2 separate regions of the Homo sapiens genome follow, and region 2 is linked to region 1. A link means that fine-mapping ties the variant in region 1 to the expression of a gene that starts in the linked region. Tissue or cell type: whole blood. Region 1 holds a variant in brackets; the other region holds the start of a gene. All regions are shown on one strand. Distances are between the middles of the regions.

Region 1 (8,490 bases):
TGGCCTGTTCTCTGGGCTGCCTTTCCCCAGTTACTGTAAAAGATCGGGGAGAAGGTGACTGCTGGCATGAGGGGACTCGAGGTTTGACTTTAAAGTGCGAATGAGCAAGCTGTAAGTGTGAGAAGTGCAGCAGCCAGTTAGAGATTCACTGTCCTCCATCCACATTCCTTGAGAATTCAGACACTATGAAACCCAGTCTCTGGTGCGGCGGCTGTTTCTCAAGCAGGCAAGGAAGTAAGTAAGTTCTCCCGGCTTGCGAATGAGTGAATGGTGGGCATACGTCTTTCTGTCCGTGTTTTCTCCAGAGCTGGTGCTGGCTGGCTTGCTGGTGACCTTTGTATATGTGTTTTTACCCCTTCCTGCACCAGACTTTCAGGGAAGGAGGTTGGGTGGGTGACCATCAAACCACCAAGAAAAGGCAAGTCTGAGAAAGAGACACTAAGACCCAAGGGAAGGTCCATGTGCCTGGGGCCGAGGCAGAACTGGGTGCTGGGCCTCTGGAGGCGAAGGAACTGTGGGGATGCCCACTGGCAGGGAAACCGTGGGGATGCCCAAGCCCAGGGGCAGGGCAGGCCTGTCTGAGCTGTGGGGGAGTGGTGAGGACGCAAGGCTGGGCATGTAAGGAGGAGTGGGCCATCAGGGGATGGAGGCCATACCTCCTGACATGGAATAAACTGGGCGTAGGGGCTGGCAGGAGGCGAGGTGTTAGAATGGCCTTACAGACAAGGAGCATGGCCAGGGCCACACACAGCAGCTGGGGAAGGGGGTCCTTTGGCTGCCAATGGCTTGGAAAGGCTACAGCCCCAGGCTTGAGGGGGCTAGTGAGAGACCAGGCTGGAGAGAGTAGCGGTGCCAGGTGAGTTGTTCATGGGGTGCTGTGTCGGGGGCATGGAGGGGCTTCTGCAGGCGAAAGCTGGGTGCTCCAACCTGAGGCTATGGGGGAAGAGCCATGGGGAGGATACATGGAGGGTGATTAGACAGGGCTGCACTGGAAAGCAGACAGCAGGGTTTTCTGAGAGGGGCTGTGGCTGCAGCCTAGTGAGGGGTGATGTGCTCTCCAGGGGCTCCTGCAGTGACAGAGGGCAGCAGGAGACAGATGGCAGGGTGTGGTACCTGGGTAGATGTGGGAGGTGAGAGGGGGAGGATCAGTCCCCAGACTCCTCCCTTGTTTCTGGCCGGAGTGCCTGGGCATGGGGGTGCAGGAGGAGCAGCCGCCAGGGAGGGAAAGCCCATGCCAGCACTGGCGCTTTCCGATAGGTGTGCTGAGTGCAGGCAGCGGAGGCCTGTGTTGGTAGCTGCTCTCGGAATTCAGAGCCAGAGGGGACTCACGTGGTTGCGTGGTGTGCATCTCTGGAAGGATTATAGGTGCTAAATTCTCCATCTCAGCATTAAAAATGTACTTGTTATTTAGGTTATATTTTTACATGGTACCAACATTTTTTTAAAAGGTATGCTGAACACAGTGTCAAATGATCAATCCACAGCGGGGTTCCCTCTGCCACCCATACTCTCCAGCGTACCCCAGCTGGCTGACCCCGGTGCTCTTGATGGATTTTATTTCCAGGTCACTGGGGCATAGGTAGGGGTGGACACCTGTGAACATCCTTCCTTCTGTCGATTTTCTCTGCCGTGTGCTGTGGAGCCAAGCGTAAAGGGCTTTGGGAATAACAATCGCTGTGGGGTTCTGACGTCTTTGGAGCTGGGACAGCCCATGGTAGACTTGCGGTCCACCCATATCCTGGGCAGTGGCTTTCTGAAGTTCACGTGAGCCTGACTCTGACCTCTCCCCAGACCCCATCATCTCCAAGGAGGACCGCCACGGGCTTGGGGGGCTGGCTCTGCACACAGTGTTTCCATGTGGTCATTTGAGGCCAGTAATGGACACAGATTGCTCTTGGCTGTGCCTCACTTCCCTGTGGGGTCCAGAGACCTGGGTTTGAGTTTCTGAGTCTGTTTCCTGGCTGTGGATCTTTTCCTTCCTCTTTAAAGGGATGACAGCGCACAGGATTGAAGACACCTAAGAGATGCTGAAGGAATATTAATTGATTTTTACTCATCTGTTGTTATGATTAATGGTGGCATTTCAGTGGGGAAAATACAGCTACAGATGAAACTGGGCTGTTGAGAAAGATACATTGTTTCAGTGTGGAGAATATAGTATTTTTTTTTTTTTTTTGCCTCCCCTCTGTATCACTTTTGGGTTTCTAACAATTGTGGATTCCAGCTTACTCCTTCCTTTTTTAAAAGATAGATTTTATGGTTTTTTTAAAAAATTTGAAATGCAGGTATTTTTTTCCCCCTAAACATTGACAATTATTTTCATTCTCCATCATTTACTATTTGCTTAGGCTATGTAGATAACAAATAAGACAAAGTTATGTGAAAGCATGATCCCCATAGTGTTTTTTAATAATGATGATACATGAGGTGCTGGGAAGGGTTATATAAATGAGGTCTGCTCATAGCAGTTCTCCAATGTGGCCATTAAAAAAAAATCACATTTTTCACATTTTGGAAGACAGCGTGGGGAAATGCTCGTGAGTTGCTTTGAGTACTGTCGTCATACTCTGAGTGGTTTCATTTCTATCCGTTTTATTTTGGTTCCTGAGCTTTTTAGGTTTGCTGTTAGAAATAGAAGCTGTCACCGTGTTGCAGTCTTGTGCAGCTTCCGAAGCCTGTGGCACTCAGTTCTAGGGTGATTCTTTCTCCAGCCTTTGATGCACTGAGTCAATTTGAGCAAATCCTTTAAAAAAAAAAAAAAGTTCCCACATCCCATGTCAAGACAACAGAGCTCTGCCAGGGCAGGTGGGGCTCCCTGTGCTCCAGGGTGCCTGGGTGCCTTCTTGCAGGCAGGCTTCCAGAACCCCAGGCCCTCCTCACCACACCACGCAGGGTTGGGACTGGATCTCCCTGGTACCTGCCACCCTTGCTTGGCTGTCAAATGTCAAGAATTCCGTGGCCTCAGTGGAGCGTGCCAGGTAAGCATTTTACGTAAAAGCAAAGAAAAGAGATGGAATGAAGTACACAGGGGAAATAGGAAGGGATGGAACGGGGGTTTTAGAAAGGGCCAGAAGCAAGATTCTGCTCTTAAAGTAGCTGACTGTCCTGGCATTCTGGGGTGAAGGTATCCATAGCATTGCTACTCAGAGTGTGATCCTAGGGAATCTGGGTGCAGATGGAGAAACTCGGATGCAAACACTGGATTCCTCAGCAGTCGGTTCCCGTTTGGCCTGGTGCAGGGCTGAGACTCTGAGGAGGAGGCATCTTGACCTGAGGGCCCTGGACTGTGCTCCTTGTCCAGCTGGGCGCAGAACCATCGTAGTCAAAGCCAGGAATGGAGATGCATTGCCTCAGGTCAGTTCCAAAGACCAGGAAGCGTCCCTGAGTATTTCAGTTGAGTAAGGACCTGGCATCTCCCTCTTCAGCCCCTTCCCTGCTCTCATATTTTTATTCATGCTTTTAGAACTGCTAAATGTCAGGTGGGTGCAGTGGCTCACACCTGTAATCCCAGCACTTTGGGAGGCCGAGGCGGGTGGATCATGAGGTCAGGAGATCGAGACCATCCTGGCTAACACGGTGAAACCCTGTCTCTACTAAAAATACAAAAAATTAGCTGGGCGTGGTGGCAGGTGCCTGTAGTCCCAGCTACTCAGGAGGCTGAGGCAGGAGAATGGCGCGAACGCGGGAGGCGGAGCTTGCAGTGAGCCGAGATCGCGCCACTGAACTCTAGCCTGTGACAGAGCAAGACTCCGTCTCAAAAAAAAAAAAAAAAAGAATTGCTAAATGTCACCTTGGCAGTGACACCTACCCTGCTTTCCCAGCAGACGCCTCTGCCCCCTACACACACACACACACACACATACACACACACACATGCACGCGCACACACGCACGCACACCAAGCTGAGCTGCCTGTTGGTGTGTCCTCCTGAGGCTGGGACTTGCTGGTCTCTGAGGAGCACGTGGTCTGGCCCTGATGTGCGCTGTGTCTACTGGGTGAGTGAATTAAGGACTGAGGTATTGTGCTACACAGGATGTGGCCAGGCCTCGAGGGTCTGTGCTTGCTAAAAATAACTCTAGATTATTCTTTTGCTCATTAAGTAATATGTACTTGTGGAAATCTTGGGAAGTCAAGATAGGCTCACAAATGAAAACCCAGAGATAATTATTGAAGCAATTTTTACATAAAATATGCTCCTTTTTCTATATGATGTGCATTCAGGTTAGGCTTTTCTGTGTCCCTAGTTTTGCCACTTGCATTTGGGGGAACAGTTGAGCATTTGCCTGTGCCATTTAAACACCTTGGAAATTGCTGTTAGAGTGGCTGCACCAGCTTCCCACCATCCCTATGTCCCAGCATCTAGAACCATTTCTCTGCTCCAGAGTCTCAAGTTCTAGGTTATTTCTGGTTTGCTGTTACTAACAGTCCTGCCCTGGGTGTCTCTGGACCTAAATCTTTGGGGACCTAAGTCACATCTCAGGCTGTTTCATTGGGTTATGGTCTAGAAGTG[A/G]CTTCAGGATTTTGTTGCTAAAGAAGAAGGGGAGAATGGGGGACAGGTTGGGCTGCAGCTAGTCAGCTGTGTCCAGCACACTTGGGCCCTGGACTTAGAACTGGACAGGTTACTTGCCCCCTCTAAGCCTCAGTTTATTCTTCTGTAAAATGGAAATAATAATGGACCCAGTCTCATAGAGTTCCAGGAGTGAGGTCATGCAGATAAGGAACAGCACAGAACCTGTTTACCTAGTTTGTCCTCAGAAGGAGCTGTTTGTGATTATTTACTGGTGCCACCTCCACCACCATCATTGTCATCCTCAGTGGCCCAGGGAAGCGTGAGTCTGAATGAGGTGTGTTGTGTAGTTAAATGATGCGATGGGTAGATGAGCCAAAATGAAAGGATCTCTTCTGTTTGATTTATTTTCATGAGTAAAAAAGCCAGAAATGTCTGTAGCATAAGTTATGTCTGTTTGGTTTGGCTAAAGCAGGGCTGACCAGGGATGAGTCTCCTGCTGTGAGTGAGTGAGGTCCCAGCTTGTCCTCTGGGGTTAGAGCAGATTTTGCTCTGGCTGGGGTGCATTTGGGGGCATGGGCTGATTTATGTTTTCCTTCTTTCTGGATCTCCCCAGGTCTAGCCATGATGGGGTGAAGGCATCACCCCCAGGGAGTGCTGACCCCTGACCCTAGCCCCATGACCCCCTCCCGTGCTAGTTCATTATGGGCAGGGGAGGTCCCAGGGATTCCCCGCACACTCATCGTGACTTTTCCAAAAGCTGTGTAAATCCAGAGTTGTAACTTGGCTCTGTCTTTCTCCTTCCCCTTGATCCACCCTCAGCTCAAGAACTCCCCTGGGAAGCACAGTGGCTCCCGTCTTTGCCTCAAGTTCTCTGATGTTCTGCACAAATGGTAGGCAGAGACAGCCCTTTCAGGGACCTGATTGCCCTGGTGTCTAGTTCTCCTTTCACAGGCCTGTTTTCCAGCTCGACTGTCAATCTGAGTCTTTCTCTTTTTGAGCTTTATGCAATGGCCTTAGAGTATACCCTATAAGGAGATCCCGGCTTGCTGGTGCCCGGCCCTGCAGCTGTGTCCCAGAAACTTGGCGGTGGTGCATGGGGCTCACTCAGCACTTCTACAGAAGCCGCCTGGGGTGGCTCCCAGGGTTCCGGTGGGAATGGGGTACAGAGGCCTGAGAGGGGGCTTTGATCAGGTGTCCTGGGGGAACATTTAGAGCTCCTGGATTCTCTGCAGGAAGGCCACCAGCAGCCAGGCATGATGGCCTGTGTCTGTAATCCCAACACTTTGAGAGGCCAAGGCAGGAGAATTGCTTGAAGCCTGGAGTTCAAGACCAGCCTGGGCGACATAGTGAGACCCCATCTCTACGAAAATTTTAATTTTTATTTTTTGAGATGGAGTCTCGCTCTGTCGCCCAGGCTGGAGTGCAGTGGCGCGACCTCGGCTCACTGCAAGCTCTGCCTCCCACGTTCACGCCATTCTTCTGCCTCAGCCTCCCAAGTAGCTGGGACTACAGGTGCCCGCCACCACGCCCGGCTAATTTTTTGTATTTTTGGTAGAGACAGGGTTTCACCATGTTAGCCAGGATGGTCTCAATCTCCTGACCTCGTGATCCACCCACCTTGGCCTCCCAAAGTGCTGGGATTACAGGTGTGAGCCACCATGCCCGGCCAATTTTTTTTTTTTAAAGGTCACCAGCCCTGTTGTCTGGGCAGTAAGCACCTAGTAGGATTGCTTCAGAGTTCTAGAATGCGCATGTAAAAATTCCAAAGTGCGTTTGGCGTCTGGGCTGGGCTTCTATGAGCAGCCCAGGCAGCAGCAGTGAGAACTCCTGTGTGTGCCTCGTCTACTGAGTGCCAGGGTTAGTGCCCCACTTGCCAGGTGAGAGGACTGAGGCTCACACAGGTGGGCTTGTCACAGCCTAGCATGTGAGCTGTGGAGCTGGGATTGGATTCTAGAGGTGTGATGGCATAGCCAGTGCCTCTTCTGCTCCGAAGACTGCCTGCCTGGTGAGAGTCCAGTGACTCCTCCCTAGTTCCAGCTCCATCCCTCCAAGGCTGTGCAGTCCTGGGTAGTGGCACAACCTCTCTGAGGCCCATCTACCAGATGGTGATGAGATGGATGATTGAGACGAGGGGAGGGCAAGTGAGAAGGCCTTCTAAAACTCAGGCCCTCGTAGGAGAAGCGTGGGTAGCCTGAGGTCAGGGACAGGGCTTAGTGTGCTGTGTGGGGCTGTGGGGAGTGGGAAGCTCACTGGTTTTCTGGCTCCTGAGATGACTCGAGGGGTCTTGTGAAGCTCACACCCCTGTCTCACTGGGCAGGAGTTTGGCCTCCACTGTGGGTCTCTGCCATCTCAGGTGGGTGGGGGACCAGGGGTCCCTGGGCAGGAGGGTGTGGGTCCTGGCTTGGAGGCAGACCTTGGCTCACTCCCTTCCTTGCCCAGGCAGTATTTTTGCCGCAGGCCCTGCCAAGTAGAAATAAGTTATTTACAGTGTTTTGACAGGATCATCGGCAGCCGGGATGGGCAAGGATGCCTTTGGGACTGAGCTAATGGCCAAGGAGTGGGGCTTGGAGAAGGGTCTGGCGTGGGAGAGAGATGGGAGATGGGGGTGGGGTGGGGGCGCACATTTACTGAACTTGTTAAATCTTGACAAATGCCAGGCCTGGCCCTCCCTTAAGCCAGGGCTTTGGGGCCTGGTGAGGGCAGGACTTGATGAGTTTTCCTGTCGACCAAATATTCCGCCGGATCGCTCAGGACCCTCGGTTATTTTTGCTGTCTGAGCCCTCAGTGCCTTCCTTTGTCCATCAGGGACAAGGACCCCTGCCCACCCAGTATATCTTCTTGGGGAGAAGATGAAACGCCTTGGTGTATGGTAGGCCAGGCCCTGGCCTTGACTGTGAGCCTGGCAGCCCCTGCAGCCCCTCACACTGGGCCACCATTGACCTGCTTTACGACTTCAAATAGCACAGACCTGCCGTGGGACCAGGGCCTCCTGCTAGTGCCTGACCTCTGTCCTGCATGATGTTCTGACCCTCCAGAAGCAGGTTTGAAAGTGCCTTTCAGGAAGGTCTGGAGAGCCTCCTGTGTAGCTTGTGGGAACAAAATGTGTTACTCCCTAGCCGAAGGATAACCAGCACACTAAAATGTGAATAAAGTGTGACTTTATTCATGTCCTTTGAGCATAAAAATGGCACACACACTGATGCATTAAAAAAACTTTTTTTTTTAATTAAACTTTTTTTAGAGATGGGGTTTTGCTCTGTCACTCAGGCTGGAGTGTAGTGGTGCGATCATAGCTTGCTGCAGCTTTGAACTCCTGGGCTCAAGCAATCCTCCCACCTCAGCCTTCTTAGTAGCTGGGACCATGGTGTGCACCAACATCTTTGATGCAGTTTTTTTTTTGAGATGGAATCTCGCTCTGTCGCCCAGGCTGGAGTGCAATGGCTCGATCTTGGCTCGCTGCAACCTCCGCCTCCCAGGTTCAAGCGATTTTCCTGTCTCAGACCCCAGAGTAACTGAGATTACAGGCACGCGCCACCATGCCTGGCTAATTTTTGTATTTTTAGTAGTGATGGGGTTTCACCGTGTTGGCCAGGGTGGTCTTGAACTCCTGACCTCAAGTGATCTGCCCGCCTCGGCTTCTAAAAGTGTTGGGATTACAGGCGCGAGCCACCAGCCTTGACATAGTTGTAAACAAAGTTGTGGTTCTGTTGTAATCTGTTCCCACAAACACACTTAGCATTCTCTTAGAGCTTCCCCCTTTGTTAAATGTCTACTTAGGCTTGCTTTTTAAATGACTGCATAATATTATCTGATTGTAACTGAAGTTCTTTGATTCCCTTGGTTGATGCTGACCATGGTTCTGGTCTGTCACCTTTATAAATAGTATTGTGATAAACATCCACTTTTGATACTGTTTGGGCAAGCCTGTGATGATTATTTCTTTGGGTTACATAAGTAAGTTGTATATATTGTTTTTGTA
Region 2 (8,000 bases), 49 kb before region 1:
CGGTGAAACCCCATCTCTACTAAAAATACAAAAAATTAGCCGGGCGTGGTGGCGGGCGCCTGTAGTCCCAGCTACTCAGGAGGCTGAGGCAGGAGAATGGCATGAACCCGGGAGGTGGAGCTTGCAGTGAGCCGAGATTGCGCCACTGCACTCCAGTCTGGGCAACAAAGCAAGACTCCGTCTCAAAAAAAAAAAAAAATACAAAAATTAGCTGGGCGTGGTGACACGTGCCAATAGTCCCAGCTACCGGGAGGTCAAGGCAGGAGAATCGCTTGAACCCGGGAGGTGCACTGGACTCCAGCCTGGATGACACAACAAGACTCCATTTCAAAAAATAAAATAAAATAAAATAATAAAATAAGATAAAATAAAATAATATTAAGAAAAAAAAAGAACTTCATCCAGCTCCTGTTCAGAAGTGACCACACACACACTGTCTTCAGCATCCCTCCCAAGTTCCCCTGGTCCATTTCTCAGGCCTCATCTTCCTGCCCATCTCCATCTTACCGTGCCCTTATTTACGGTGTTCTTCCCTTTTCACCCTCTGAAACTTCGCACCTGTTTTCGCCTTTGCCTGGAATGTTGCCTCCTTCCCCCACTGAACTCCTTCCTACTCATCCTTCAAGATCCTATGCCACAGTCTCCCCAGTCATGCAGCAAAATGGGACAGATTGCCATCTTCCTTCCCATTTCCCTCTCAGCTCTCACCCCACGTTTCCTTTTTTCTTTCTTTTTTTTGTTTTTGAGATGGAGTTTTGCCCTTGCCGCCCAGGCTGGAGTGCAATGGCGCGACCTCGGCTGACCGCAACCTCCGCCTCTCTGGTTCAAGCGATTCTCCTGCCTCAGCCTCCCAAGTAGCTGGGATTACAGGCATGCGCCACCATGCCCACCTAATTTTGTATTTTTAGTAGAGATGGGGTTTCTCCATGTTGGTCAGGCTGGCCTCGAACTCCTGATCTCAGGTGATCCGCCTGCTTCGGCCTCCCAGCGCCCAGCCTCATCCCGTGTTTCTAATCAATGGCTTGTGTCCATTTTCCTCTGCCACACACTGGGCTCTCGTGTGTTTGCCAAAGGAGTGAGGGAATTCCAGGAACCCTCCTGAACCACCCAGCCTCAACTGGTCTTTCAGTTCCTAAGAACAGCAGGACATTTAAAGTCGATGCCTGTAATCCCTACTGCTGACTTCAAGTATCAAGTTTATAGTTGCTGCCCCCATCCCCTTCGTTTTTACTCCCTTAGCCGCCTTCTTTTTTTTTTTTTTTTTTTGAGACGGAGTCTCACTCTGTTGCCCAGGCTAGAGTGCAGTGGCACGATCTCAGCTCACTGCCAGCTCTGCCTCCCAGGTTCACGCCATTCTCCTGCCTTAGCCTCCCAAGTAGCTGGGACTACAGGCGCCCGCCACCACGCCCGGCTAATTTTTTGTATTTTTAGTAGAGACAGGGTTTCACCGTGTTAGCCAGGATGATCTCAATCTCCTGACCTCATGATGTGCCCACCTCGGCCTCCCAAAGTGCTGGGATTACAGGCATGAGCCACCATGCGCAGCCTCCCTTAGCCTTCTTTTATCCATCTTGTGCCTCGGCCCTAGGGGTCCTTGCTATGATCTTCCCTTTATCCAGCTTTCCATGTCCCCCCCAGGAGCCAGGCATTCTAAGCCACAGAGCTGACCCTGGAACCTGTCACCACTTACCTTCTAGGCTCCCATGGCCTATGAAACTCGCAGTACCCTTGCCTAAGGCATGCAGTGCCCGTCCCTAGCTGGCCCCCTGGAGGAGTCCTGTTTCCCACCCATCGTCTTTTCCACTCTCCATCCATCCGTTTTCTCTACCTTGTTAAAGAAAAAAACTAATCAGATTCTCGTTAAAGATGGCAGGGAAGCCAGGCGGGGTGGCTCAGGTCTACAATCCCAGCACTTTGGGAGGCCCAGGTGGGAGGACAGCTTGAGGCCAGGAGTTCGAGACCTGCCTGGGCAACACAGTGTAGTCCCAGCTGCTCGGGAGGCTGAGGTGGGAGGATCAGTTTAGCAGGGGTGTTCGAGGCTGCAGTGAGCTATGACTGCACCATTGCACTCCAGCCTGGGCAGCATAGAGAGATCCTTGTCTTTCTTTTTTTTTTGAGACGGAGTTTCTTAATGTAGGCCGGCCAGGGTGATCACATACCAAGCGTGGAGATATTCTTGACAGCAGGATTCTGGCTAAAACTGGACTAAGAAGGCCAAGGACAGAGCCCAAGGTCGGGGCCTGGTCAGAAAGAGGTCTCGGAGGAGCCTGACTCAAGTGTGATCAAGGGAAGTCTTGGTCACCCGCTGGCAACTTGGCTTTTTCTTGTCTCCCAGCCTCAATTCAAGCTCATCCCCCTTCCCTGCTCCATCAAAATCTCCTTGATTTCCAAGGCCAGCTTCAGTGTCTCCTCTCAAACTTTTCTGAGCCTTCCCTCCACGGGAATCCATTTTTCCTGCCTGGGCCTGGGGAGAGAAGTCCATTTCTCCTTCCCAAACCCAGAGACCATTGAGGCAGGAAAGCTCCCTGGCTGCCCCATAGGGCAGGGCAGGGTAGGCGGGGTTTAGTGACTCCCCGGCGCCGACGCTGACCCGCACCCCTGAGGAAGGGGTCTCCGGGGACGGCCGCTGTTGTCGCTGTCGCCTCCAGTCCCCGCCCCTTCCCCCCTCAGTGAAGGGGACCTAGAGTGAGAACTGGTGGTCACGTCCTACGCCTAGGAGGGCCCCTGGGTGTTCACCCACCCCCCCGGGGGGCCCCATCCTGGGCCAGGGTCCGCTTCCTCGAGGGAAGGGGCGAATTCCTGGAAGGTCTCCTTCCGGGCGCAGTTGCAATGGATTGCCTTGGGGGTGCTGAACCCTGCTGGGGGTACAGAGACGTTTCCGAAACTCAGCGGCTCGGTCGCCCCCAAAGGCCAGGCGGAACACACGCCCACACCGCGGCTCCCTTCCCGAAGTAAGACCGCCGGGCCACGGCCGCCCCCAGGAAGCCCCGCGCCCCGCACCCCACACCCGGGGACACAAACAGGCGCCGGGTAGCCGCGAGGGCCGGCGCGGCGCCTTTAAGAGGCGGCGGGCGGCGCTGCCCCCTGGCGGCCGCCCCGCCGCTTCCTCGCCGCCGCGGGCTCAAGCGGGGCGGCCGGGCCAGCGCGGGGCGGCGGCGGGCAGGGGCGGCGAGTGCGCGGGCGCTCGCCGCCGCCCTTCTCGGCGGGCAGCGCGCGAGGACCAGGCCGAGGAGGAAGTGGCGGCGGCGGCGGCGGGTGAGGATCTCTGGCCGGGCCGAGTGGCCGCGTGCGCCCCGCCGGGGTCCAAGCGCGCCCAGGGGTTACGGCCCGGCTGGGAACATCAGAGGGCGAGGACCCGGGCGGGAGGAGGAGGGAGGAAGGGCTCGGAGGCCGCGCTTCTGCCGCCGCCTGAGGGCGTGTGGCTCGGGCCCGCGCGGCGGGAGGGCGGGCAGGGCGGGGGCGGTGTCTGCGGAGGCCCGGCTTCCCCTCCTGCGGGCCCTGGCCCCAGCTCCGACTCAGACTCAGGCTCAGCCGTGCCCCAGCCTCAGCCGGCAGGCCGGGCGGCGCGGCGCTCGCGAGCCGGTGGGCGGGCGGGCGAGCCCGCAGGCGGCGGGGGCGTGGGCGGTGGCAGCTTGGCCCAGCCAGTGGCCTTCCGCGCTGAGCGCCGCTCCCTCCTCCCGGCCGCCCGCCGCGCCCCGCCCCGCTCCGCTCCGCGCGGCAGGACTGCGCGCCCCAGCTCCGATCCCCGTTCCGCGTCCCCGCCGCCGGGAGGAGGTGCCCACTCGCTCGCGGCGCGCGCCGGCCGCCAGACTCGGCCTGTGGGCGATTTCCTCCGGACCCAGGCTCCCCGCCCGAGGAGGAAGATGCAGACCTTTCTGAAAGGGAAGAGAGTTGGCTACTGGCTGAGCGAGAAGAAAATCAAGAAGCTGAATTTCCAGGCCTTCGCCGAGCTGTGCAGGTAAGGAGGGACGCGGCGCCGGCGCCCGGGGACCCCCGGCCCGAGCCCGGTGACCCCCGGCCCGAGCCCGGTGCAGCCTCATTAGTTGTTTTGGGAGATCGGAGCCAAACGGGAAGAAGCGGCGCGCGGGGAGACTGAGTCCGAGCAGCCAGGTGGCGGTGGCGGCCGCCGGCCGCGTTCCAGGGAAGCGGTGGCCGGTGCGGGCGAGGTGGCACGGACCGGGGCGTTCAGGTGCACTGTGACCCGGCTGGGGAGGCCCCCAGCAGCCCAGGGCGCGGTGGGAGTTCTACTGAGGGTTGCGGAGGGACCTGGGAAATCGGGGCATCCACGCTGTGGGGTAAGGGCTTGAGGGTACTTTTGGACCGGAGTGTTTTTCTTCCTTCGTCCCCTTCCCTTTCATGAAGAAAGGGCACCCACGTTTGTGGACCACCTACTATGTGCCCCGCGTGTGCTCGGCTCTTGAGGCTGTCATTGCATATCATGAGGTTAAGCCCAGTTGAAGCGAGTAGCAATTCTTGGCATGTATGTGGTGATTTGCTGTCTCATTAGAGCCTCGCAGCAGCCCTGCAAATTGGCCAGGGTGGTGATTCTGGGCCACCTGTCTGAGAACGGGGACCGATCGGCAGAGGAGCGGGGTACCTAGCTTGGGGTCCCGCAGCTAGGGAGTGGCTGGTGCGTAGAAAGTGCTGGGTAAATGCCCGTGGTGTGGAGTGGCCTTCTGCCATCTGGGCTGTGTGCCCCTGCTCCCACCATGCTGGTGCTCCTTGGCGGAGTCTCCGGTGTTTAACAGATCACGTTCTTAATAAATTACAGAACTACTGAGTCTTGGGTCAGGTAGGCCTTCCCTTGCTCCACAACTGTAGCTTTGCCTCTGAGAAGCAGTTAAGCCCTTTTCTCAATGCAAGCCTAAGAGAATCTAGCTCTGAAAGCCTTTTGCAAACTCCAGGTGGAAACCTTTTGTGATGCAGCTTGTTAGACTGATTTTTGAAAATGGGCTCTACTTGCATTTTTGTCCCTGTGGGGGCCCCACACATCTTGGAGAATTGAACAGTTGGGTTTCCGTAACCCCTGGTGCTCCTGGGGGCCCGTGGCTGGTCTGAGCTGGCATGCGCAGGTGAGCCTGGCAGCACCTCTGTGTGCCTCATGCCTTTCCCAAGGGCCTGCTGCTCCTTTGCCCCGTGCAAGCCCCGCAGGCGCTCTTCCTGCAGCCAGAGGGGCACAGCTTGTACAGGATAGTGCCTGGTTCTTTATCCCTTGGTCTGGGGATGGGGTTGGCTGCCTTCTCCCAGGCCGGTTTCCCTAGAAGACAGGCTCTTCATGATCAATAGGGCATGCAGAGTGGCCCCAGCAATTCATGAAGAAATCAGGAGGAGCTCGAAGCCAGAGCTTTGAAAATGAGTCTTAGGACCCTTGGAACATTACAAAAGGGTACTTGAACGTTGTACCGCGGATACACTCACTTGTGGGAAGGGCATTCTAAGACACTAAAGAAATTTGGAGCAGCTGCTTTGGCATGTTCTCGAAGTCCAGTTCTGATGTGAGGCACCGGAGCTCCCCCTGCAGTCATGTAAGACTTGGGAAATCCCAGCGAATACCTCGCACCCTTTGTACTGCTGTCTGTATTTATGTCATCTTGTGTCTGCAACTCAAGCTTGAGGCTTGTCATTGGGTTGGCTTGTTTTGCTTGGTAATTAGGAGGCTCTCGCAAAATATTCTTCGCCGAGACTCACAACTAGGTCCTCGTGCTGGACCTGCAGATTGGCTTGACCTTGTAGACATTCTTCCTTTAAAGGGGTGGGAGGTTCAGAGCAAGCTATGCTATCAACGTTCTGGGGAGTAGAGCATTACTTTCTCTGAAAGAGTTGTTGTCTTCAAAGTCTAGTTGCCTTCCTTTGGCCAAAATATTGGCTTCAAAGAAGGCAGAAGTCATCAGGGCCATTCTAGAACCCGAGGAAGCCCACTTTGTGTTTTCACTAGGGAAGCTTTAGATATTTTATCACTTAAGCCTAAGAAGGAAAAGAAAACACCAAAGAGTTTTTCCGTTTCTTATTTATTACTTTCAGGGCAGTGCCCCCTGGTGGCCACATTTCTATACTGGCTGCAAAATGCTGCAACTGTTGAGCCAGTGACCAGGGAGCCCCGTGAGGTTGTTTTGTTTGGTGTGAGGGCCAATGAGACTTTAGTGGCTGAGAGACAGTGCAAAGGACATTATCATGTTTTCCACATTCAGAATCTGGGGGCGCAGGGCTTCTGTACTGACGACGGGTGATGAATTGTCTATGAATTCCCTAATGAAAAAGTCTAAAGGTATTTGAAAATGGCCCTGCTTTGGGCCGGGTGCCGTGTCTTCTGTCTGTAATCCCAGCACTTTGGGAGTCCAAGGTGGGTGGGTCACGAGGTCAGGAGATCGAGACCATCCTGGCTAACATGGTGAAACCCCATCTCTACTAAAAATACAAAAATTAGCCGGGCATGATGGCAGGCGCCTGTAGTCCCAGCTACTCAGGAGGCTGAGGCAGGAGAATCACTTGAACCCGGGAGGCAGAGGTTGCAGTAAGTCGAGATGGTGCCACTGCACTCTAGCTTGGGTGACAGAGCGAGACTCCATCTCAAAAAAAAAAAAAAAAAAAATGGCCCTGCTCTTAATGTTTGGGCAAAGAATGACCCGAATGGTCCGGCCCGGGGTGGGTTGTTTAGCTGAATGTCCGGCCTTGTAAAAATCTGATCTCAGAGCAGGAAGAGATGTTGGCCATCATCTCATCTAGCCCCTTTGTCTTACAGATGGGGAAACCCATCAAGAGAGGGGGCAGGTTCCGGACTCTTGGTCTTTTCCTTTAACTTCTAGAATGGGTCCAACCTGGCTACCTTGAGATTGCCTTTCTGATTGGGCATCTCCGACAATAAGGCAGTCTCCCTCATTATCTTTCCAGGGGTCTGGTGGCTGCTATTTAGCCCCCAGGACACATTCCTTGCAAAGCTGAGCCCCTCTGCAAGTGTAATCCTTGTCTTGGGGGGAGGGTTTGGGGGGTAGTGCACGTTGATGGCAACAGTGGGTGGTTAGAGCCACTTCATGGGCCATGAAGTGCCCCACCTGCCGTAGGTAGGGACAGGCGCCAGCCTTTTCAGATGTGCACTCTGATAGGATGGGGCTCTGCTAGCCAGCAGATGGGCCTTTGAATCCACTTGTTTGTCAGTGGTACTGTTTGTTCCTGTTGCCATCCTGTTTCTTCCCCTTTCTCTGGGGACACGGCTCTGGTTGTGTTCTCTTGTACCCCTCCCACCTGCCTTCCCTAGCCTGGGAGCAACCTTGTAGGTCTCCCACACCACCCCCTCTTTGTGGCTTTTTTTTTTTTTTTTTGAGGTGGAGTCTCGCTTTGTCGCCCAGCCTGGAGTGCAGTGGCGCAATCTCGGCTCACTGCAACCTCCGCCTCCCAGGTTCAAGCTATTCTCCTGCCTCAGCCTCCTGAGTAGCTGGGATTACAGGTGCGCACCACCACGCCTGGCTAATTTTTGTATTTTTAGTGGAGATGGAGTTTTACCATGTTGTCCAGGCTGGTCTCGAACTCCTGACCTCAGGTGATCCGCCTGCCTTGCCCTCCCAGAGTGCTGGGATTACAGGCATTCCTGGCCTTTGTGGCTTTTTCTAGATGCTCAGAAGGGGCTTCAGAGGGGGAGTGAAGAAATTAAAGCTGTTAGTTGGAAATACTGGGTGATATTAATTTAATTTTAAATTTTGTAGTTCTGTACAGTGCCTCACTGGGGAATACTGGCTGGCCCCAGTTTCCTCAGCTCATGTTTTCTGTGCCTCCTCCTCTCCTCCTCTCTGTCCCATTCTTTCTGTGGCTGAACCTACGTTGCAGGAGGTGGGGGCGGAAGAGGCACATGACTTGGTGAAGCTTTCCATATAAAATTTGGGTGAACCTTATCTGTCTTTACTGTAATAATTGCTGATTTTTAATGAAGTGCTTCCAGGGACCTCATCTCATTTAATCCTTCCAGCAGCCCAGGGATGGAGGGATGAGGGATGGAGGGATGAGGGATG

What was found.
Region 2: it holds the start of ITPK1, and the variant in region 1 is fine-mapped to the expression of ITPK1 in whole blood (TOPMed, PIP 0.98).

Annotation. Positions count from the first base shown.
Region 1 is chr14:93,061,691-93,070,180 of GRCh38, reverse strand. All of the region lies in intron 3 of ITPK1 (inositol-tetrakisphosphate 1-kinase), which reads left to right. It overlaps ITPK1-AS1 (ITPK1 antisense RNA 1), which reads right to left and starts at 2,729. Exons shown (of 1, transcript NR_002808.2): 1 at 1-2,729. The variant A/G (reference allele first, on the strand shown) is at 4,512.
Region 2 is chr14:93,111,027-93,119,026 of GRCh38, reverse strand. ITPK1 (inositol-tetrakisphosphate 1-kinase) reads left to right here and starts at 3,102. Exons shown (of 11, transcript NM_014216.6): 1 at 3,102-3,255; 2 at 3,722-3,958. The coding sequence starts at 3,864.